2 separate regions of the Homo sapiens genome follow, and region 1 is linked to region 2. The links come from fine-mapping of genetic effects on gene expression. A gene starts in region 2. The other region holds a variant in brackets. All regions are shown on one strand. Distances are from middle to middle.

Region 1 (8,000 bases), 49 kb after region 2:
CACCAATTTTTGTCCTTGTCACAATCTTGCCACCTCCTTAAAAAAGCCGCCTTAAGCAGTAGGGACCCCTAGGTCCATTTTAAGTAGAAACCAGGGGTTCCTGATGGATTTGAAATTATCCTTGCTACTGCACCCTCTACAAGAGCGATGGAGTATAAAAGTTAATATGAACAAGGGTAAAGGGGCCCAGTTCTGAATTTGGCCAGATGCTGTGGCTCAAGCCTGTAATCTCAGCACTTTGGGAGGCCGAGGCGGATAGATCACTTGAGGCCAGGAGTTCGAGACCAGCCTGGCCAACATGGTGAAACCCCGTCTCTACTAAAAATACAGAAATTAGCCGGGCATGGTGACACATGCCTGTAATTCCAGCTACTCAGGAGGCTGAGGCACAAAAATCGTTTGAGCCTGGGAGGCGGAGGTTGCAGTGAGCCAAGATTATACCACTGCATTCCAGCCTGGGTGCAGAGCAAGACCCTGCCTCCAAAAAGAAAAGAAAATAAAAGAAATTCTGAATTTATTGTAAGTCAATCTTTCCCTGTCTTTTGCTTTTAGCTTTCCCACTCTTTATTTCTGGGTCCTCCCTACATCCTAGGTCATTGAGGCTGCCTTTATTCATACCAGTCACTTTGTGTAACCTGTCCTGCCTTAATTCTACCTCCTCAGAAGAGCAGTAGCTCCATTCCCAGTTGCTACCAATTTTCTTAGAGAAAAATTGCTTTAAATCTATATCCCTTAATTCTGCCAACTTCAGTTTCCTTATTCCTTTCCTTATTTTTTTCGTTGAAACAATTTTTTTTTTTAGTGATTAAAAGTTGTATGTGTGTGTATTTGCACGTGGGAGAGAGAGAGATCTGAGCACTATTTTAACCTCACCCCCTGGGCTTTTACCACAGTTAACATCTTGGTGTATGCCTTCCATTACACTTTTTTTTCCCTATGTAACGTGGGATCATACTATGTGTATTTAGCAACTCGTTTTTTTTTCCACTTAATAAATCACCTATCTCTTTGCGTTGTCTCATTTTCGTTTTCATTAGACTATAACTGTTCAGAAACAAAGTTCGTATGCTCGAACCAGAGGATCTTTCTCAGATTCAGATCTGTCAGTACGCAATGAGCCCTAAATTCCTCAAAGGTTGTACAGAATGCACAGCATAAAATAACTGTGCTTAGTATGTTTGGGCAGTCATTCCATCTTTCCTCCAGTGTGCCTTGATAATAGAACTAATGTGCACGACATTACAGATTATCTTTTGTGTATTTTGTTTTTCATGTTATAGCTTGGACAGCTTTTAGCAGCTACATGCAAAGAACTTCCAGGCCCTAAAGAAAGTAGACGGACTGCCAAAGACCTTTGGGAAGTTGTTGTTCAAATCTGTAGTGTGTCCAGTCAGCACAAACGAGGAAATGATGGCAGAGTTAGTTTAATAAAACAGAGGGAATCTACGTTAGGTATCATGTATCGGTATGTATTGGTACGTTTCTATTAGTTGTGTTTGAGTTCTTAATATTTATCCTATTTATACTATTAACCTATTAAAGGTTGATTTCAAGAACATCAGCTTTTATTCTGTATATCATAAAGTTGGACAATCTTACGAGTTCTGTAGTACTCACCTGTGATGAACCTGTCTGCCTTGGCCACCTTTGGAAAGATCTTTTGTTTATATGTCATTTTAAGAAACTATTAATCATTTAATCAACTGGAATTCAAAATCAGTAGTATTTAAGGTTGGATAGTATTGAAGACTTCACATGTGATTAAAACAGGGAAGAAATGTTATTAGGTTAGTATAACAGTAGAATATTACATTCCTTTTCACACTTGCAGAATTGGAGCATTAAGAATAAACCTTCACCTATAATTTACTTTCTTGATTTTATTTTTTATTTCTAATATTAAATGTGTATTCAAAAATTTTTGTTTTGTAGGAGTGAACTGCTTTCTTTTATCAAAAAATTACGAGTAAGTTTTATTAAAAATTGCTCTAATTACTATTGCTGGTTTTTGTAGAATATGACTAAAAATTATTGGGTACTTCAAATACTGACTAAATTATTATTTGTTTTTTAATTTTTTTTTAAGGGACAGGGTCTTGATCTGTCACCCAAGCTGGAGTGCTGAGGTGTGATTGTAACTCACTGCGTCTTCTAATTCTTGAGGTTAAGCAGTCCTCCTGCCTCAGCTTTCTGAGGAACTGGGACTACAGGCACATGTAACCATGCCCAGCTAATTTTTTGTAGAGATGAGGTCTCCCCTTGTTGCCCAGGCTAGTTTCTAACTCCTGGTCTCAAATTATCATCCCTTCTTGGCCCCTCACAGTGCTGGGATTACAGGTGTTAGCCACCTTGCCTGGCCTCTGGTTAAATTATTAAAGTGACCTGTTAATGTGCTTTTCTTCAGTGATCATTATTGGTGGGTGGGATATTCTGACTGGAAAAGTTTGTATTGCATTTACTTTACCATGTTTTAGTGAACGGAGCAGGTATTTCTTTAAATTGTAAAGAAGTCTTCATAATAGGGGCTAGATGTGTGAAGCCTGGCTTTAATTTTTGCTTAGTAGGATCAATGTCATATTTACTTATTGGACGTAACCTAGGTTTCACTCTTTGAACATTATTTTAAGGGATAAAAAGTTACTTGAGAGTCATGTGAGGAGTTGAGCGTGGAGATAGCACCATAAGCCAAACATTTATGCTAATTTTATGTAAATTATGTGCTATGGTCCACGCCCCGCCCCCACATGCGATTAAAAAGTTGATTTTTAGTGTGCTAAAGCACATGCTAAAACAGATGCTACATTTTCAAAAGGCAAGGGTCTTTTAGAATGCTTGATGTCTGTGAGGTTGACAGGAGCAATATTAAATAAATATACATACACTGTTTAAGGATTCTGTGTTTTCTTTCTCATAGGAACCACTCGTTTTGACTATTATTTTATCACTCTTTGTGAAACTTCACAATGTTCGGGTAAGTATTTCATAATTTCATTTAGAAAAATTTAAAAGAAATTTCTTTGTAAATCACACCTTTTTTTTTCTTTTTAAAGGAGGACATTGTGAATGATATTACAGCTGAACACATTTCTATTTGGCCATCTTCCATTCCCAAGTAAGTAGTGGTATAGCTTTTATTTTATTAATTGAGTTATGTATTTGGAAACCATTCTGACTAGTATAGATACCCTTAGATAATTTTATTAAAGGGCCAGAAATCTAAGATTCTACAGTCTTTGTGTTTCTCTATTATGATAATGATAATTATCTTCCTGTAAATTGTGGATAAGGCATAACCCTTTTTTTTTTTTTTTTTTTTGAGGCAGAGTCTCACTCTGTTGCCCAGGCTGGAATGCAGTGGTACAATCTCTGCTCACTGCAATCTCTGCCTCTTGGGCTCAAGCAATTCTCATGCCTCAGCCTCCCAAATAGCTGGGATTACAGGCACCCACCACCACGCCTGGCTAATTTTTGTATTTTTAGTAGACACATGGTTTTGCCATGTTGGCCAGGCTGGTCTCAAACTCCTGACCTCAAGTGATCTGCCCACCTCAGCCTCCCAAAGTGCTGGGATTACAGGCAGGAGCTACCACACCTGGCCCAGCATAACTCTTAAGTAGGAGTTAAGATTTATCAGCCTTGGAACAGAAGATATAAGTGGTCCTGATTTTCAGTAGAATTGGAAAATTGGGGCCAATGAAAGAATGACTTTCTATCAGGTTTCCAGCATCTTATTTCTTTTACAAGTATCTATTTGAAAGTGATTTCTTTTTTCATAATTTTTTGTATGTCTCATCTAATGCTGCAGTTATCAAAAGGCTCCCAATCTCTTTTAGTTGCTGTAGGAACTAAACTAAACTTCTTTAATTACTTTGAGAAATATTCCCTTTTGCATGCACTACCTGAGAATCACAGTAAGATGATGGGGACTTTTTTTAGGGGAGGAAAAAGGGTTCATTTACTTGAAGAAATCATGTACATTTTTCTTTTCCCACACATAGCACTTCTCATGTAGGGG[A/G]ATCAACTTGTTTCCTCACAGATGTTTTTCCTCCCTGCCCTCCCTCTCAGTCTTCTTAGTTTGTGCTTGTCCAAGCCTTATGTTATTACTCTTAGTGGCATCTTTGAAGAAGAAAAGATTTCGGTACATAGACAAGCTGATAATAGAATAATAGTAAAGAATTTGTTTCCGTCTCAATCTTAGAGATTGGAAAAGCTCTCTGTCTCATCCAGGGATTTGGAGGGTCAGAGCAGGTGAGTGCCCCTGCCCTCCACTTACTGAGGCTTGTTTCCCAAGGGAGCACCATGCTGCATGAAGCACATGTGCATGCTCCACAGCATTTGAACTGCAGAGTCCGTCATCCTGTGTTCCTGATTTTTATATAAAATCTGTTGTTAGATACCAATTCAAGAATCAGGTAGAGACAGTTTTTCTTTTCTTTTCTTTTCTCTTTTCTTTTCTTTTTTTTTAGACATCACGTTGCTTTGTCGCCCAGGCTGGAGTGCAGTGGTGAGGTCTCAGCTCACTGCAACCTACGCCTGCAAGGTTCAAGCGATTCTCATGCCTCAGCCTGCCAAGTATCTGGGATTACAGGTGCATGCCACCACCCCCAGCTATTTATTTGTATTTTTAGTAGAGACAGGGTTTCACCCTGTTTCCCAGGCTGGTCTTGAACCCCTAGCCTCTAGAGATCTGCCCACCTTGGCCTCCTAGAGCTCTGGAATTATAGGCGTGAGCCACCATGCCCACCCAGTTTTGGATTTTTTTTTTTTTTTTTTTGAGGCAGAGTTTTGCTTTTGTTGCCCAGGCTGGAGTGCAGTGGCGCAATCTCGGCTCTCCACAACCTCTGCCTCCCTGGTTCAAGCAATTCTCCTGCCTCAGGCTCCCGAGTACCTGGGATTACAAGCATGTGCCACCACACTGGGTAAATTTTGTATTTTTAGTAGAGACAGGTTTCTTCATGTTGGTCAGGCTGGTCCCAAACTCCTGACCTCAGGTGATCTGCACACCTCAGCCTCCCAAAGTGCTGGGATTAACAGGCGTGAGCCACCACGGCCAGCCCAGTTTTGCATTTTTTAATTGGTGGTTTCAGTGGTTGTGTTTTTGTTTTTTGGGGGTTTTTTTGAGACAAAGTCTCACTCTGTTACCCAAGCTGGAGTGCAATGGTACGATCTCGGCTTACTGCAACCTCCACCTTCCAGGTTTGAGCAATTACTACAGGCGTGTGCCACCACACCTGGCTAATTTTTATTTTTATTTATTTATTTACTTATTTTTATTTTTATTTTTTGAGACGGAGTCTTGCTCTGTTGCCCAGGCTGGAGTGCAGTGGCATGATCTCAGCTCACTGCAACCTCCGCCTCCCGGGTTCAAGCAATTCTCCTGCCTCAGCCTCCTGAGTAGCTGGTGTTACAGGCACGTGCCACCAAACACAGCTAATTTTTGTATTTTTAGTAGAGATGAGGTTTCACCATGTTGGTCAGGCTGGTCTCAAACTCCTGACCTTGTGATCTGCCTACCTCGGCCTCCCAAAGTGCTGGGATTACAGGCATGAGCCACTGCGCCCCACCTAATGGTTGTGTTTTTTAGCCTCTGTAGTATTACCTCTGTGGCCTAAGTTTAGACTGTAATGATTGGTTTCCAGCGTGTTTGTAAATGAGGCAAAAGAATTGTTTACCCTAGGGGCTCTGGGTCAGACTCACGGGGTTTGAGCCCCAGCCTTTTCACTTAGAGGTATATGACCTTCAATAAGTTGGTTTCTGTGCCATGTTCCCCATCTCTAAAATAGTACCTGCCTAAGAATTGTGAGGATGAAATAATATATTTTTATTTATTTATTTTTTTTTTTTGAGATGGAGTCTTGCTATGTCACCCAGGCTGGAGTGCAGTAGCGCGATCTTGGCTCACTGCAAGCTCTGCCTCCCGGGTTCACGCCATTCTCCTGCCTCAGCCTCCCAAGTAGCTGGGGCTACAGGCGCCCACCACCATGCCTGGCTAATTTTTTGTATTTTTAGTAGAGACGGGGTTTCACCATGTTAGCCAGGATGATGTTGATCTCCTGACCTCGTGATCCACCTGCCTCGGCCTCCCAAAGTACTGGTATTACAGGCGTGAGCCACCGCACCTGGCCTGAAATAATACATTTTCTAAGCTAGATATTTAGAATAAAGACTGGTACATAGTAGGCTTAACTATTATCTTCATGATGAAAGTACTTTAAATTGACCCAGAGAAAACAAAATATGACTAAATGTTTGACTAGAGAAAAGTATTTCTCCTGAGTGGGACTCTTTATTGATTCCAAGAATAGTGGGAATGGCACTGGATTGAAGATTACGTTTTTAAAACCAACTACTTGATATATAGAATTCTTACACTTGTAACATTTTGTAAATGTCTGTAAAATTGTAAGCCAATCTAACTTATATAACTATTTAAATTTAAATAAATAATGGACTATTTGCTAATAATCCCACAATTCATTTTCCACTGTACTGGGCTCTGGTGAGTTAGGGTAAACTGTAACCCCTCAGGGCAACAGAAGTACCTTGTCTAAATTCACCTTGTAAATGATAGAGCCATGCGTCTGAATCCACAGCCTGTATTCTCTACCCTTGTGCTTTACTGCTCTTAGGAGGTGGGAGCAGTTAGCAGTTTTTTGGGTGCCGGCCTCGCTTTTCTCTTCACAGTTCAATCTTCTGACTCTGTACCTGAAGGTGTCCACATTTAGCCAGGCTCACAGTACTCTTTTCTTGATTCTTGGGGGCTGCCAGATGCACTGATATGATATACTTGGACATCCAGCCCCTGACCCCATTAGGCCCCTGAAGCATCTCGAGGGGAGTCAGTAACTCTTGCAAGAAGGCTTAAGGTGGATGTAAGGCCACAAGGCAACATTGTCAGTGTCTGAGTCCTTGATTTTTATGTAACTTCTCATAGATAACAGAACTTAAAAATCATTTGGGGGCCAGGTGTGGTGGCTCAGGACTGTAATCCCCAGCACCGGGAGGCTGAGATGGGCAGATTGGCTGAGGCCAGGAGTTTGAGACCAGCCTGGCCAACATGGTGAAACCCCGTCTCTACTAAAAATACAAAAAAAAAAAAAAAATTAGCTGGGTGTGGTGGTGAGCGCCTGTAATCCCAGCTACTCAGGAGGCCGAGGCAGAGGAATCACTTGAACCCGGGAGGCGGAGGTTGCAGTGAGCTGAGATCGTGCCACCGCACTCCAACCTGGGCGACAGAGTGAGACTCCGTCTCAAAAAAAAAAAAATGATAATAATAATTTGGGGAAATTTTATGAGTCTCTTTTGTTGCCCATAAATTGTGCTAAGCAGAGGTAAGGGTTTTATCTCACTACTTCTGTATGCTTTAAACATTTGTAAAAGAGGCAAATACACTTTCTTGGTGCAGCCTTGTCTACCTTTGACATTCTGAAGAAAAGAGAACAAAAATCAGATTGTTTTCAACCCCTCATAAAAAGCCCATCACACTTTCTTAGACTTAGTTGTGTTGATAGTTCTTATAATACATTTACTCCTAGTATTTAGCATTATATTTATGTTCACCTAAATCTTGGCTGAGTTTTTGTTTTTAATAAATACATGCATGGAATTTAAAGTTGACTTTTAAAATAGAGATTAATGTTGTGTGTCTTTCCTTTTAGCCTCCAGTCTGTGGACTTTGAAGCTGTGGCAATCACAGTGAAAGAGCTAGTTCGATATACACTCAGTATAAATCCAAATAACCATTCTTGGTTAATTATCCAGGCAGATATTTACTTTGGTAAGTGAGATGTTTAGTTGCTTTGTGTTTTGTTTTTATAGCACTTTTTGAAGTGAAAGTAAATATATAACCTATTTTATTTCAATACTTAAGTTTTGTTGAGATTTACTTGTCTTTAGTAAAATTAAAGCAGTAAAAGTATTTGTACTTTTTTTTAGTGTAGAGCCTTTGGTTCAGATGCTTTTAACTTTACGTTGACTACCTTTATTCTCTTTTTCAAAAA
Region 2 (16,780 bases):
ATAGTATTTTAATATGACAATCTTTTTCTACCTACTGAGAATGTCAGGAAAGTTCTGACTCTAAAAGCACACCTTAAAATTTTGTCCTGTTTATCTGTATGCAGAGAGATTTTTATGCTTTAAAGCCTTTAGTGTAAACATATAGTACTTGGAAGTAAAAACAAAAAGAGAGACTAACATGAAAGCTCCTGTGACTTCTCCTCTAGATGCCAGCTGGTCGAATGTACATGACAGACCACTAGCCAGTCTGAAGAACTGAGCCCTTCCCCACAGTGAGCCTGGCAATGCAGAAATGGAGACGGAGGAGTCTGTCTGGCCCAGTCCCCAATCAAGCCTGTCTATCTTTTTGTTAGGCCATTCTTGCATTGCTATAAAGGAATAATTGAGACTGGATAATTTATAAAGAAAAGAGATTTAATTGGTTCACTGTTCTGTAGGCTGTACAGGAAGCATGGTACTGCCATCTGCCTCTGGGGAGGCCTCAGGAAGCTTCCAATCCTGGCAAAAGGCAAAGGGGAGCAGGCATCTCACAGGGTGAGAGCAAGAGCAAGAGAGTTCAGGGGAGGTATCACACATTTTTTTTCTTCTTTTTGAGACAGAGTCTCCTTCTGTCACCCAGGCTGGAGTGCAGTGGCGCAATCTCAGCTCACTGCGACCTCTACCACAGCCTCCCGAGTAGCTGGGATTACAGGTATGTGCCACCATGGCTGGCTAATTTTGTATTTTTAATGGAGGTTTCATCACGTTGTTAAGGCTGGACTAGAACTCCTGACCTCAAGTGATTTGCCCACCTTGGCCTCCTAAAGTGCTGGGATTATAGGCATGAGCCACTGCGCCCGGCCAAGTACCACACACTTTTAAACAATCAGATCTCAAACTCACTCAGTATTACAAAGACAACACCAAGATGATGGTGCTAAACCATTCATGAGAAATCCACCCCCATGATCCAGTTACCTCCCACTAGGCCCCTTCTCCAACACTGGGGATTATAATTCAACATGAGATTTAGAAGGGACAACATCCAAACTATAGCAATCACTGTACAGAAGGTTATAAAGGAAGGTAGCAGGCGGTTGCCAGATGAAAGTGGAATGACCTCTGCTCTGGCTATGTCATGGCAATAAGGACACACCTGTTCCTTCCATTAGGTGAATAAGGCCTACATTCGGTTATCCATTCAGCTAGGTGCTGTATGGATAACACAAATACAGATGTATAGACATGGACACTGCTTGGAAGAGCTGTAGAGGTAAAGGAAAACTTCTGCTTCATCCTCTGAAGGTTCACTGAAAATCAGCTAACAGAAGGCAGGTAAATAGAAGAAAAGGCATATAAGTTTATTTGATCATAGCTTTTTGTGACATGAGAGCCTTCAGAATGAAGACTCAAAGATACCGGGGAACCTGTCCATTGTATGCTTAGTTTCAACAAAGTATGAACAGCCATGTACAGATGTAATTGGACAAAAAGAGTATGACTTAACCATAATAGACTGAGTGGGGACACCCTGCAAGGTCTGTCTAGATTCTTCTTGGCTTCTCAGTGCAGCATTCCTTCCTACTGGGGACAGGGCAGCACCCTCTCTGGAATGGGGGTCTCATGACCTATAACCAAACAACATAGCTGGGCACTTTGGGCGGCCGAGGCAGGTGGATCACCTGAGGTCAGGAGTTCGAGACCAGCCTGGCTAACATGGTGAAACCCCATCTCTACTAAAAATACAAAAATTAGATGTGCATGGTGGTGTGCGCCTGTAGTCCCAGCTACTAGGGAGGCTGAGGCAGGAGCATCATTTGAACCTGGGAGGCAGAGGTTGCAGTAAGCCAAGATTGCACCACTGCACTCCAGCCTGGATGACAGAGTGAGACCCCGTCTCAAAAAGCAACAAACAAACAAACAAAACCCCCAAAACCAAGGTAGCTCACATAATTTTTTAATGTCAGTTTTTACACAGAAAAATGGGTGGGAGGGTGAAGTTAGAGTAATATTATTAGGTTTGATGGCTAGCTCCAGGGAAAAGGGGTTCTGGTTTCTATGGCAAGCCTTAGGGGAGAATGATGGTCCAGAGACAGGAGGTCAGGAGAGGGTCAGAGAGAAACTTATGTCTCTGGGGCCTTCATTTTAGGGTATCGTTTTCTGAGCCCCAACAAGCTTTAAGTTTATTGCTGATTATAAAACCTAGACAATAGAGTGAGTCATAAATATCTTAAGAACAGGTTAATAATGCTTTAGGTTAGATAAAGCAAAGATTAAATAAAGGTTTGTAGATCTGGTTTATAGGGAAGCATTTGCATGCATGTAAAAGGCAGGTGCTTTGTGTTTAATAAAAGATTTATTTATTTAGCAAATATTTACTGGGTGCCTGCTGTGTACTAGAGGCTGTACCAGGTAAACGGTATAACCACCATTCTGCTCTCCCCCACCCCCACCTCCAAGATCTTGGAGTCTACCGGGGAAGTGAGACTGTTAAATAGGTAACTGCAAGGAGGTGATATGAATGCCATGACCGGGATGCACAGCTCTATGGCCACATACAACAGGGTGCCTACCTGTCCAAGGAGGTAGTGAAGACCGCAGAGAAAAGTCATGTTTGGTAGGACTCGCTTATTACCTCTTGACAGATCTGTTTTTGGAAGTCCCTAACAAGATGTAATTCAGTTAGGTGTTGCAGGATAGCTTGTACAAAGAATTAGTTACTTCCAATCACAATCCTCAAGTCATATTCCTTCTTCCATACTGGAAAGTATAAGGAAGAGGTGATACCAGCCAGCCGGTATTACCGGTAGATATGGACACTATCCCTAATGGCCACAAGATGGCAGTAGAATCCATCAGCCAGTTTCCCCCACCTCAAAAATATTTATTGAATAAAGTTTTAAATTGTATGTTTATGTCTGAATTGTATTGCATATTTTTTTAAAGAAATACCAAAGAAATTAACCGATTTCAAGTTTTTTGTTTGTTTCGAGAGAGAGTCTGTCTCTGTTGCCCAGGCTGGAGTGCAGCGGCGCGATCTCGGCTCACTGCAACCTCTGCCTCCTGGGTTCAGGCGATTCTCCTGCCTCAGCCTCCCGATTTGCTGGGATTACAGGCGTGCGCCACCTCCCCCAGCTAATTTTTTTATTTTTTAGTAGAAATGAGGTTTCACCATGTTGGCCAGGCTGGTCTCGAACTCCCGACCTTAGGTGATCCACCCGCCTCAGCCTCCCAAAGTGCTGGGATTATAGGCGTGAGCCACCGTGCCCGTCCTAGTTTATTTTTTTATTTATGTGATTTTCAGAAGTCCTTGGTGAAAATAATTTTCATCCTTAGACTGTATAATATCTCTGCTTTTTTATTTTTATTTTTTCACTGTAGCTCATCTAGTTTGCTGTACTTTGTAGAGACCCAGATTTCAGAGGCAACGAGTCTCTGAGCTACCAGAATAACAAGGAAGCAGGGAGGATGTAAAAGAAAACATTTTAAACTATCATGAAGGAGGAGAGCAGGACTAGATACTGTGGTTTATGATCAACATAAAACAGAAACTTCTACTTGATGGTAACTGGTAAACATATACAGCATATGAACCTTGCCAGGGGCCCTGCAAATACATAATTATCACTATAAAAGGGGTTTGCCAGAATTTCACTTATTCTTATGATGTTACTAAATCTGCTACCACCTCATTTGTGAATTTTTCCTTGATCTGAAGCTAAACACTCTAGAACATTTCAGGCCTTGTGACATTTTCCAGGCTGTTTGACTAATTGATAATTAACTACAAGCTTCCTTTCTCATCTTCTCCATGTGGAGATGTCAGCACGCAGTATCCAAGCAGATGGGGACAAGGTGAGGGGTGTGGTTGCACAGGTGGTGTGCCTGGGGTTAGAGTGTGCCCACACTGAGGGGTTACCGGAATGCAGGACTTTCAGTTTTAAAACTGACATAGTCCTGGCCAAGCGGGGATGAGTTGGTGCTATGGTTTTAATGTTTTTGCCTCCTCCAAAATTAATGTGTTGGAAACATAATTATTCTTATGCAACAGTATTGGGAGGTGAGGCCTTTTGGGAGGTGTTTAGGTCGTGAGGACTCTGCCCTCATAAAGTATGAATGCTGCCATAAAAAAGGGCTTGCAGGAGTGGTTCGTTCTCCCTTGTTCTTCTGCCTTTCTGCTGTGTGAGGACACAGCAGTCCTCTCTGTAGGATGCAGCAACAAGGTGACATCTCAGAACCAGAGGCTAAACCTTGATCTTGGACTTCCCAGCCTCTAGAAATGTGAGAAATAAATTTCTGTTCCTTAGAAATTACCCAGTCTCAGGTATTCCATTATAGCAGCACAAAATGGACTAAGAGAGTTGGTCACTCTACCCAGTATACAAGGAAGTAGGGAGCTGTTGTGGAGAGAGGGTGAGAGGAAGTATGGTAAAATATTAACAATGGACACATTTGGGTGAAGGGGATAGGAGAGTTCTTTATACTGTTCTTAAATTTTTTTCATGTATTTACAACTATTTTTAAAAACAAACAAAAAAACCGGCTGGACACAGTGGCCCTCGCCTGTAATCCCAGCACTTTGGGAGGCCGAAGAGGGCGGATGACCTGAGGTTAGGAGCTTGAGACTAGCCTGTCCAACATGGTGAAACCCCATCTCTACTCAAATACAAAAATTAGCTGGGCGTGGTGGTTAGTCCCAGCTACTTGGGAGGCTGAGGCAGGAGAATTGCTTGAACCTGGGAGGCAGAGGTTGCAGTGAGCCGAGATTGTGCCACTGCACTCCAGCCTGGGTGACAGAGCAAGACTCTGTCTTAAAAAAATAATAAATAAGTAAATAAACAAATAGCATACAAATTTGATGGAACTTTTATTATCATTTCACTGAATCTGTAGATAAATTTGAGAATACAGTAATCAGCCTCCCTCTCTAGGAGCAGAATTTTTCTCTCCATTTATTTAGATCCTTCATGTTTTTGAATAACATTTTTATTATTTTCTTCATATAGGTCTTCCACATGCGATCTTGCCCTCATGATCTAATCACTTCCCAAAGGAGGCCCCTCCCTTCTAACCTTGGGGGTTAGTTTGCTTTCCTTTTTCTTTTCTTTTCTTTTCTTTTTTTTTTTTTTTTTTTTGAGATGGAATCTCGCTCTTGTCGCCCAGGCAAAAGTGCAGTGGTGCGATTTCGGCTCACTGCAACGTCCGCCTCCTGGGTTCAAGCGATTCTCATTACTCAGCCTCCCAAGTAGCTGGGATTACAGGCGCCCATGCCCACGCCTGGCTGATAGTTGTATTTTTAGTAGACAGGGTTTCACCATGTTGGCCAGGCTGGTCTTGAACTCCTTACCTCAGGTGATCCGCCCGCCTCGGCCTCCCAAAGTGCTGGGATTACAGGCGTGAGCCACCATGCATGGTCTAGTTTTCAACACATGAATGTGGGGGGAACACAAACATTCAGACCATAGCAGTGGTTCAATTTAACGAAGGTCATATCAGGGACCAAACCCTGGTTCTAACATTTATTCTCTGGGAGACTTTGACGAAGCTACTGATCTACTTATTCTGCTCCTAGATAAGGAGTCTCATTACTGTATTATCAAGTTTATCTATAGATTTGGTGCAATTATAATAAAAGTTCCACCAAATTTGTGTGCTATTGATTTTTTGTTTTTTAAATAGTTGTAAATCCACAGAAAAAAAATTAAGAACAATAACTTCTCTGATCCTCAGCTTCTTCAGCTGTAAGGTGAGCTCATAATTCCTACTTTCTAGGATGTTGAAAGATCAAATGAGAAAACGAGGATATAAAGGCCCTAATTTGGGTCATGGTATGTAACAAATGCTCCATAATAGTTTGTTTCTATGAGCCCATAGAATTTTTCATGGGTTTTGAGGAAATATCAGGGACTTTAAAAGCATCTATATATGGCTGGGCACAGTGGCTTACACCTGTAATTCCAGCACTTTGGGAGGCCAACGTGGGAGGATCACTGGAGCCCAAGAGCTCCAGATCAGCCTGGGTGGGCAACATAGCAAGACCCTATCTCTGCAAAAAAATAAATAAATTAGCTGGGCATGGTGGTATTCATCTGTGGTCCCAGCTACTCAGGAGGCTGAGGCAGAAGGATCACTTGAACCCAGGATGTCAAGGAGGCAGTGAGCTAAATGCCACTGCACTCCAGCCTGGGCAACAGAGAGATACCATCACAAAACAAACAAACAAAAACCAGAACGGGGTGCGGTGGCTCACGTCTGTAATCCCAGCACTTTGGGAGGCTGAGGCGGGTAGATCACCTGAGGTCAGGAGTTCGAGACCAGCCCGGTCGACATAGTGTAACCTGTCTCTACTAAAAATACAAAAATTAGCCAGGCATGGTGGCGTGCCTGTAATCCCAGCTACTCTGGAGGCTGAGGTAGGAGAATCACTTGAACCTGGGAGGTGGAGGTTGCAGCGAGCCAAGAGCGCACCATTGCACTCCAGCCTGGGCAACAGAGCAAGACTCTGTCTCAAAAAAAAAAAATACAGATAAAGTTGAAGTACCTGTGACCCCCCTCCCCCACTCCTTCCCCCCATTCACCTCTCCTCTCCCCTTCTCTAACCCACCCCTGTTCTATCCTCCTTCCCTCTTCTCTTCAGAGCCAAACACAGTAGGATTTTGATGTGCATGCCTCAATAAAATAGTTTCTCAGATTTTTTAGTCTCAGGGCCCTGTTAGACCAAAAAATTATTAAGCACTTAAAAGAGTGTTTGTTTATATTTACCATATTAAAAATTAACACTGAGAAGTTTTAAAAATATTTAATTTATTTAAATTAAAATAAAATAATCATATAAAAATAAAAATAATCCTATTACATGCTGACAAATACAATTTTATATAAAATAACTATTTTCATTTTAAAAACTAGAAGAGTGGCATTGCTCACATAGATGAGTAGTTAAAAAAAGAAGTATTTTATATCTTTTCGGATAATTATGGACTTTCTTCACCAAAACCTGAGAAAGTGGTTGTTTCTTAAAGATTAGCTGCAATTTTAAATCTGAAATCATACCAATTAACTTTTCAAATTCCGTTCCATTACAATTCATCAGTCTGTCTTGAAATTTTTTGTTTTGTTTTGTTTTGAGATGGAGTCTTGCTCTGTCGCCCAGGCTGGAGTACAGTGATGCGATTTCTGCTCACTGCAACCTCTGCCTCCCGGGTTCAAGCTATTCTCCTGCTTCAGACTCCTGAGTAGCTAGGATTACAGGCACCTGCCACCATGCCAGCTAATTTTTGTATTTTTAATAGAGACAGGGTTTGATCACGTTGGCCAGGCTGGTCCAAACTCCTGACCTCGTCATCCTCCCACCTCGGCCTCCCAAAGTGCTGGGATTACAGGCATGAGCCACCGTGCCCAGCTGAAATTTTTTATTTATTTACTTTTAAGAGGCAGGGTCTCGCTCTGTCACCCAGACTGGAGTACAGTGGCATGATCATAGCTCGCTGCAGTCTCCAACTCCTGGTTTCAAGTGATCATCCTGCCCCTGCCTCCCAAAGTGTTGGGATTACAGGCATGAGCCACTGTGCTCGGCTTGTCTTGGAATTTAAATAAATCTTTTAGCCATATATTAGGAAAATATTGATTGATTTGTCAAGTTGTGATGATCATCTGAAAGTTGACACATTTAAATATACATTTGTTAATATCGCCATTGGTGTCATCAGAAAAGTCTTGTCAAGTATTGGGAAGCTGCCAAGTTTACAGTTTTCTAAAATTCTAATTTTACTTAAAAAGTTGAATGTTGGCCAGGAGCGGTGGCTCATGTCTGTAATCCCAGCACTTTGGGAGGCCAAGGTGGGAGGATCACTTGAGGTCAGGAGTTCAAGACCAGTCTGGCCAACATGGTGAAACCCCATCTCTACTAAAAATAGAAAAATTAGCCAGGTGTGGTGGTGGCAGTGCCTGTAATCCCAGCTATTCGGGAGGCTGAGGCAGGAGAATCGCTTGAACCTGAGAGGTGGAGGTTGCAGTGAGCGGTGATAGCACCATTGCACTCCAGCCTGGGCAGCAAGAGCAAAACTCCATCTCAAAAAAAAAAAAAAAAAATTGAATGTTATTATTCGCCACAAATGGTGTTAGTTGTTTTCCATAAAGTGACATGACAGGCTCACTTTGTTCAAGAAAATGTCTGCTAAATACCCAAGTCTGAATGACCACAGTCTGTTCTCATTCTTTCTTTCTTTTCTTTTTTTTTTTTTTTTTGAGACAGGGTCTCACTCTGTCACCCACCTGAGTGCAGTGGTGCAATCTCGGCTCACTGTAGCCTCATCCTCTTGGGCTCAAGCAATCCTCCCACCTCAGTTTCCCACATAGCCAGGACTACAGACGCACACCACCATCCCAGCCTTATTTTTTATTTTGATTTTTTTGTAGAGACAGAAGTCTCACTATGCTGCCCAGATACGTCTTGAATTCCTGGACTCTCCACCTCAGCCTCCCAAAGTGCTGGGATTACAGGCGTGAGCCACTGCACTCGGCCAGTTTCTGTTGTTTTAAACCACAAAGTTTGTGGTAATTTGTTACAGCAGCCACTTGAAACAGATACAATGAGTATGTCACATTTTATTTGTCTATTCACCAGGTTATAGACCTTGGTTTCTACTTTTAGGCTACTGTAGATACTGCTGTTCTAAACATTCAAGTCTTTGTGTGGGTACATTTTCTCCTTTCTCTTGGATACATACCTAGAAGGGGAATTGCTGAGTCATCTGGTAAGCCTATTTTTAACATTTTTTTTTTTTTGAGACAGAGTTTCATTCTTGTCGCCTAAGCTGGAGTGCAATGGCGCGATCTCGGCTCACCGCAACCTCTGCCTCCCGGGTTCAAGCGATTCTCCTGCCTCAGCCTCCTGAGTAGCTGGGATTACAGGCATGTGCCACCAAGCCCAGCTAATTTTGTATTTTTTAGTAGAGATGGGGTTTCTCCATGTTGGTCAGGCTGGTCTCGAACTCCTGACCTCAGGTGATCCGCCCGCCTCGGCCTCCCAAAGTGCTGGGATTACAGGCGTGACCCACCGTGCCCGGCCTATTTTTAACATTTTGAGAAACTGCCAAACTGGTTTCAAAAGTGGCTGTAGCATTTTACATTTGACATGTATGGAGGTTCTAATTTCATATCATCACCAATACTTATTTTTGTCTTTTTGATCATAGCCATTTTAGTGGGTGTGAAGTGGTATTTCACACAGTTTTGTTTTGCTTTATTTATTTATGTATTTATTTGAGACAAAGTCTCGCTCTGTCACCCAGCCCAGAGTGCAGTGGCATAATCATAGCTCACTGCAGCCTGCTTCCCAGGCTCAAGCCATCCTCCCACCTCAGTCTCCCAGGGTAGCTGGGACCACAGGCATGTATCGCCATGCCTGGCTAATTTTTGTGTTTTTTGTAGAGATGGGGTCTCACGTTGTTGCCCAGGCTAGTGATTTGCGTTTCTTTTCTTTTCTTTCCTTTTTTTTTTTTTTTTTGAGACAGTCTCACTCTGTCACCCAGGCTGGAGTGCAGTGGCATGATCTCAGCTCATTGCAACCTCCACCTCCTGGGTTCAAGTGATTCTCTGTCTCAGCCTCCCGAGTAGCTGGGATTACAGACGCATCACCACCATGCCCGGCTAATTTTTGTATTTTTAGTAAAGACAGGGTTTCACCATCTTGGCCAGGCTGGTCTTGAACTCCTGACCTTGTGATCCACCCACCTCGGCCTCCTAAAGTGATGAAATCACAGGCGTGAGCCACCGCACCTGGCCGATGATTTGTGTTTCTTTAACGACTAATGATATTGAGCATTTTCATGTGCATATTGCCCATTTGTAATATCTTCTTTGGAGAATGATCAATTCAAATCCTTTTTTTTTTTTTTTTTTTTTTGTTTTGAGATGGAGTCTCGCTCTGTCGGAGTCTCGCTCTGTTGCCTAGGCTGGAGTGCAGTGGCACAATCTCAGCTTACTGCAACCTCTGCCTCGTGGGTTCAAGCAATTCTCCTGCCTCAGCCTCTCAAGTAGCTGGGATTACAGGTGCCCGCCACCATGCCAGGCTAATTTTTGTATTTTTAGTAGAGATGAGGTTTCACCATGTTGGCCAGGCTGGTCTTGAACTCCTGACCTCAGGTGATCCACCCACCTCGGCCTCCCAAAGTGCTGGGATTACAGGCGTGAGCCACCGTGCCTGGCCAATTCAAATCCTTTACTCACTGTGTTGTTGCTGGGTTGTAAGAGTTCTTTACATATTCTAGATGTAAGTCCCTTATCAGACACATGATTTGCAAATATTTTCTTCTAGTCTTTGGGTTGTCATTCCACTTTCCTGATGGTATCTTTCCAAGTGTATTATTTTTTAAATCAAAATTTTAAATATTTCTTTTGCCTCTGTTGTTTCTGAGAGCCGAAGACATAGCAAGTTGAAGAAGCCTTGGCTTTTTGACATTCTGGGACACCTTTCAAGAACACTGAACCCACACCAGGATTGTCACACACTGACAGGGAAAGATGTGTCACTCCAGACCCAGGCAAGCAAACTTGGCCACAGCTGGGATATGTGTCTTGCATCAAAGCAGAAGCAACTGGTAGTTTTGAGGGTCTTCTGACAGACACCCTCCAAACATACTGCTCAGAAGTGAGGTAGGAGGTGAGATGCGACTCTGGAGTCAGGGTTTGGACACCGGACCAAATTCAGGGATGGGGCTGAAGCAGCTTTCCATGAGACATGCTCAACAGTGTGCCATGTCGGTTTACCATTGCCATGGCAACACCTGGGCATTGCCACCCCATTCTATGGTAATGACCCGATGACCCAGAAGTTACTACCTTTTTCCTAGAAATTTCTGCATAAACTTCCCCTTAATCTGCATGCAATTAAAAGTGGGTGTAAATATGCCTGCAGAACCTCCCTGAGCTGGTATTCTCAGCGCACTGCCTGTGGGTTAGCCCTGCTCTGCAGGGGCAGTCACAGAGCTGTAACACTGCCACTTCAGTAAAGCTGTTCTCTTCTACCACTGGTTCACACTTGAATTCTTTCCTGGACAAAGCAAAGAACTCTCTGGGGTGAAGTTCCAATTTGGGGTCACCTGCCCTGCATTAGAGGGACAAGAGTCCCTGGCTGGAAGCTTGAGTTCATTAGACTCCTCCAATGTTGATGAAGTCTTAAGTTATGACTCCCTCTAAGAGATGGTCTCTAAGTTTAATAAACTTCAAGATCTCTGTCAACCTTCAAGTATTCAATTACCCACTCTGAAAAGGGGAGTTCAGTGCTGTAACACTTTTATGGCAAGACATTTTTGAGTCTAAATAAAACACCTTGGGACTTGAAATATATAATGTTGTTATTGTATTAGATGGTAGTGGAATAATGAACTCTTCCTTAATTAAAACTTATTTTTACATATGTAATACAAATGTCAAAATGTCAAGTTAATCTGTACTGATTTCCTTTTTTTTCTTTCTTTTTTTTTTTCTCGTTGTGAGACAGGGTCTCACTCTGTTGCCCAGGCTGGAGTGTAGCGGCACAATCACAGCTCACTGCAACCTCAATCTCTTAGGCTTAGGTGATCCTCCCGCCTCAGCTTCCTGAGTAGCTGGGACCACAGGTGTGTGTCACCATACCCGGCTACTTAAAAAAAATTTTTTTTTGAGACAGAGTTTCGCTCTGTTGCCCAGGCTGGAGTGCAATGGAGCGATCTCGGTTCACTGCAACCTCCGCCTCGCGGGTTCAAGCGATTCTCCTGCCACAGCCTCCTGAGCAGCTGGGATTACAGGCGTCCGCCACCAAGCCCGGCTAATTTTTGTATTTTTAGTAGAGACGGGGTTTCATCATATTGGTCAGGCTGGCCTTGTATTCACGATCTATGAATGCATCTTTTTTCAGTTTTAATCGTTAATGAAAAATACAAGAACATCACAGAACGGAGGTAAATGTATAGGGTTAACAGCGCCTCTAGCGGGGATATCGAAAGGATCAACTAGGCTCTAAGTATCGGGAGCTAGCAGCAAGGGCTGCTCACCGTATGCTGCCATCCGTCCAGGAAGCGAGTGGGAAGCTGGTGTTCTCGGCAGGACGGCGGGAGCATCTGAGGAGAGGACCCAGGTGCGAGGAAATCTCAGAAATGGGAACGGGGAAATTGAAAGCACAGGAGATAAACTTTGCTTGGGTCACAACTAGAACCCTTCGCTTCGCCTTTACGAAAATATTGAGGCCCGTTGCAACCCTAGATGAGGTTGTCTCATTTTCTCGCTGGAGAACTGTCAGGGAACACGGAAAACCCACCCGCGACCCGGCTTCATGCGGCGCCGTCTCCTATGGCAACCGGGAGGAGGCGTGGTTCGAAGGTTAGTCACGCCCCTTTCCTTCCAACCCGAACAACGATTGGTCCGAAGGCGCGGCGGTGGCGCGGGGAGGCGGATCCAGGACCGCAGCTCCGGCTGGCCCGCGCCGCCATTTTGGATTGTGTGAGTTTCCGGGACGTTCGGAGGGTGGCCTCTCTCCCACCGGGTTCCGCATACCCCAGGCACCGGCCCGCATCCAAGTGTCAGGTTGGAGCCGGGAAGCGGCCCTGGTGGTAGCGGCGGCGGGGGCAGGATGAGCGCGGAGGCGGCGGACCGGGAGGCGGCCACCTCCAGCCGGCCCTGCACCCCGCCGCAGACCTGCTGGTTTGAGTTTCTGCTGGAGGAGTCACTGTTGGAGAAACATCTGCGCAAGCCCTGCCCGGGTGAGCGCGGCGCCTGCACCTGGGGAGCGGGACCCGGCCACCGGCGCTGTCCGCCCAGCTTCCCTCCGCTCCCCGCCTTCTCGGTCACCGAAGCTGCGGCCTGGGAGGCGCGCACAGGAGCCCAGCTCCGGCCGGGCTCCTCGCTTCCCTTAAACATGCCCGGGTGGAGGGTCAAAGAAAAGCTCGAAACAAAGGCTCTCCTACCCCCGGAGGGGAGGGCTTGGTGCTGTCATCCTAAACCCTTTGGTCCTTTTTACGATTTACCTTTTTACTGTTGGGGTTTTAGAGGCTGCGAGGCGGGTCTTGTGGTTGCTTGGGTCGGGGAGGCTGACCAGACGCCTCCTTCAACCCCAAGCTGAATAAATTCAGGGAGCTGGGGAGAAACCAGCTGTTGGGTGTTGATCGTGACGCTAGTTATTATCTTAGGTTTTATTTAAACATTTTTTTCTTCAGTGAGGGAATTTTATTGACTCTTATTCCAAAGTTGGGCTGTAAGTTAAAAGAAAATCTTTGAAAGTAGGAACTGCTGCACATTTGCAAGATGGCTTTGTATAGTGATGATAATGATTAATAGCCCAGTTAAATGGGTGTGATTGATGGGGGAGGAGGAAAACTCCAGGCATTCTCAAAAAAGGTATTGGCACAAAAAGGTAAGTTCCTCGGATAGCATTTCTCTAAATTCAAATCTAGATATGGCTTGTTCAGTCTCAGACTGGCCTTCACTGATAGAGACCACTGTGTAAGAAGTTAGTGTACTTAGGCAGTTTTGGCACCTGTATAATGCCCTTAATTCATTCCTTTTGAAAGATAATTTGTTGAGTGCTTTCCGGGTGCCATGCACTGTGCTTAATTGCTCACATCCGTTACCTCCTTTAATTTAATCTTCAAAATGATCCTCTATTTTGCATTGGAAGAAGCAGGTACGGAGAGGTCACTTGATGGAGGTCCCCCTAATTAAGTGTCAAAATAATAGTTCTAATATTTATATCTCATTCTTCTAATTGGCAGTGGTTATTTGCAGAACCAGAAATCTATGACTGTTATGTTCTTCCCCGTAAGGTGCTTTTTTTTGCTTTCTTCCACTCTAATCTGTTACCCTTCCTCCTTACCACTCTTCCGCATCTCCTTTAACCCCCAGGCACACTTCTTACATACGTATTCCTTAGTCATTTTAACAGCGCAGCTGTTTGGATTCCTTTTGTGGCAAAAAAAAAACCCAAACTCCCCCCCCCCCCACCCACCCCCCCAAAAAAACCAAACCAATAGTGAATCCTTTTGTATCTACATAATTAAAACTTAAATTTAAGAATTTATTTTCTTTTAAACCCTAGATCCTGCACCAGTTCAACTTATAGTTCAGTTTTTGGAACAGGCTTCCAAACCTTCAGTTAATGAACAAAACCAAGTTCAACCTCCGCCTGATAACAAGAGAAATCGTATTTTAAAACTACTTGCTCTTAAAGTTGCTGCACATTTGAAGTGGGACTTAGACATATTAGAGAAAAGGTATCCAAGATTTCAGTGAAATTTCATTTGAAGTGCTATTTAGATATCTTGGTTTATTTCTATATATGCTTTTATGATATCGGCTCTTAAAAATTACGTGCTGGGCGCCGTGGCTCACGCCTATAATAATCCCGGCACTTTGGGGGCCAAGGCTGGCAGATTACTTGAGGTCAGGAGTTTGAGACCAGCCTGGCCATCATGGTGAAACCTCGTCTCTAGCCGGGCATGGTGGCGGGCGCCTGTAATTTCAGCTACTTGGGAGGCTGAGGCACGAGAATCGCTTGAACCCGGGAGGCTGAGGTTGCAGTGAGCCGAGATGGCGCTACTGCACTCCAGCCTGGGCGATAGAGTAAGACTCGGAAAAAAAAAAAAAATAATAAAATAAATATTATATATTCTTGATAAAATATGCAAGTATAACATTACTTTTGATGTGGTAACTAGAGAAAATCCACACCTAAACTGTTGTAAATTTCTCAAGTGACTTTTACATATCTGAAGAAAATGAATAAAAATTAATGATAGATGTTGTGTAATATGAATGATTTGCTGTTGAATAATTGAGTTGATTTTACTGGTCATAAATCACTATCTCCTATTAAAACAGCTGATTAGAGTCAGTGCTTATTTGCTTAAATATAAATAATTTCAAGCCTTTTATTAGAAAATGATTTATTATCATCCCCTTCTCATCACAATTTAAAACATCCCTTATAGGAAGTTGGGAAAAATTTAAAAAATAGGAAATAATTGGGGAGGAGAGGGGTTTTTTTTGACATTTTCATGTAATTTTTTTTCTTTGTTCTCCATAGGCTTAAAGTTGTGATCATACCCTATATACTGTTTTTATTCCTGGTTTTTTCACCTAGCTGTATCATGAGCATTTCCCCTTTTTTATTTTTTGGAGAGAATTCCGTTGTATGGGTAATTTATTAACTGTTCCTTAATTGACAGTCATTTAGTTTATTTCTAGTTTTTCACTGATATAAATCACAGGGCCTTAAATATCTTTGCCCATAAAATAAGTTTATCTGTATTTTGAGTTGTATTCTTAGGATAGCTCCTTAAATTGCTGGATCGTGCAGTATAAACATTGTTAAGACACATGAATATTGCTGGATTGCATTCCAAAAGAGTTTATATTCTCACCAGTAGTATTCAAAAACCCTCTTTTTAACCACATTCTTCAGCATTAAATATTAGAATTTTTAAAGTGAATTTTTTTTTTTTTTGAGACGGAGTCTCGCTCTGTCACCCAGGCTGGAGTGCAGTGGCGCGATATTCGCTCACTGCAAGCTCCGCCTCCTGGGTTGACGCCATTCTCCTGCCTCAGCCTCCCGAGTAGCTGGGACTGCAGGCGCCCGCCACCATAAAGTGTATTTTTAATCTGAGCAGGGGAAGCTATACGTTATAGACTGAAGAGACATCAACAGATAGCAATGGGTACAAAGAAGTATGACATATATGAGGCAGCTGGAAAATTGAACACTGATAGGCTGTTTGACAGTAAGCAAGTCTAAGTTTTTTAGATGTGAAATTAATATTGTGATTATGTTAAGAGTTAATTTTTTGAAATATATTCTGAAATATTTATGGACGAAATGATTTGGGAAGTGGGGAAGAATAGAGATGAAGTAAGATTGGCCATCAGGTGATAATTGCTAGATGATGGTACATAGGGGTTCATTATATCCTGTCTACTTTTATGTTTTACGTTTTTTCATAATAAAAAGTTTTAAAAATCTTTTCGCATTTAAGCCGGGCACGGTGGCTCACGCCTGTAATCCCAGCACTGTGGGAGGCTGAGGCAGGCAGATCACAAGGTCAGGAGATGGAGACCATCCTGGCTAACATGGTGAAACCCCGTCTCTACTAAAAACACAAAAAATTAGCTGGGCATGGTGGCGGGCGCCTGTAATCCCAGCTACTCAGGAGGCTCAGGCAGGAGAATGGCATGAACCCGGGAGGCGGAGCTTGCAGTGAGCCAAGATTGTGCCACTGCACTCCAGCCTGGGCGACAGAGCGAGACTCTGTCTCAAAAAAAAGAAAAAAAAACTTTTTCACATTTGATAGCTAAACCCAGAGATGTGGTTCCTTAACAATGTAGGTATTTTCAGCGAGGATATGGAATTTTGTATGTATTTTGTGTTTCTTTCACAATTAATGTGCAAACATGTACGTTTTGCTTCTTCAAGTTTGTCTGTTCCAGTATTGAATATGCTACTAAATGAACTACTCTGCATCAGTAAAGTTCCTCCTGGGACAAAGCATGTAGACATGGATCTGGCCACTTTACCTCCGACCACTGCCATGGCTGTACTTCTCTATAATAGATGGTAAATGTTTTCATAAACTCAGAAGGCGTTGGGCAACCTCTGTTTTATTGCACTGTGGCTTTCAAGGATATTCTTTTAATGGACCCATTCTGCTGCAGGGATTTTTCAAATCTGGGGAACTGTGAGTCTAATGGTGGAGAAAATTTGTGACTGCATAGATGAAAAGCAATCTGATAAAAATGTGGATGACTTATGCAGGATTTACCATGTGTCAATTAA

What was found. PIP is the estimated chance that this variant, and not a neighbour inherited with it, causes the effect.
Region 1: its variant is fine-mapped to the expression of INTS8 in lung (TOPMed, PIP 0.95).

What each region holds. Positions count from the first base shown.
Region 1 is chr8:94,864,226-94,872,225 of GRCh38, forward strand. It overlaps INTS8 (integrator complex subunit 8), which reads left to right. Exons shown (of 27, transcript NM_017864.4): 17 at 1,281-1,465; 18 at 1,933-1,966; 19 at 2,915-2,971; 20 at 3,051-3,112; 21 at 7,659-7,777. Among named protein-coding and RNA genes, the nearest start is that of CCNE2, 27 kb to the right of the region's middle. The variant A/G (reference allele first, on the strand shown) is at 4,016.
Region 2 is chr8:94,810,843-94,827,622 of GRCh38, forward strand. It overlaps INTS8 (integrator complex subunit 8), which reads left to right and starts at 12,445. Exons shown (of 27, transcript NM_017864.4): 1 at 12,445-12,719; 2 at 14,051-14,225; 3 at 16,421-16,561. The coding sequence starts at 12,590. RefSeq lists a silencer at 12,482-12,871 and an enhancer at 13,032-13,091.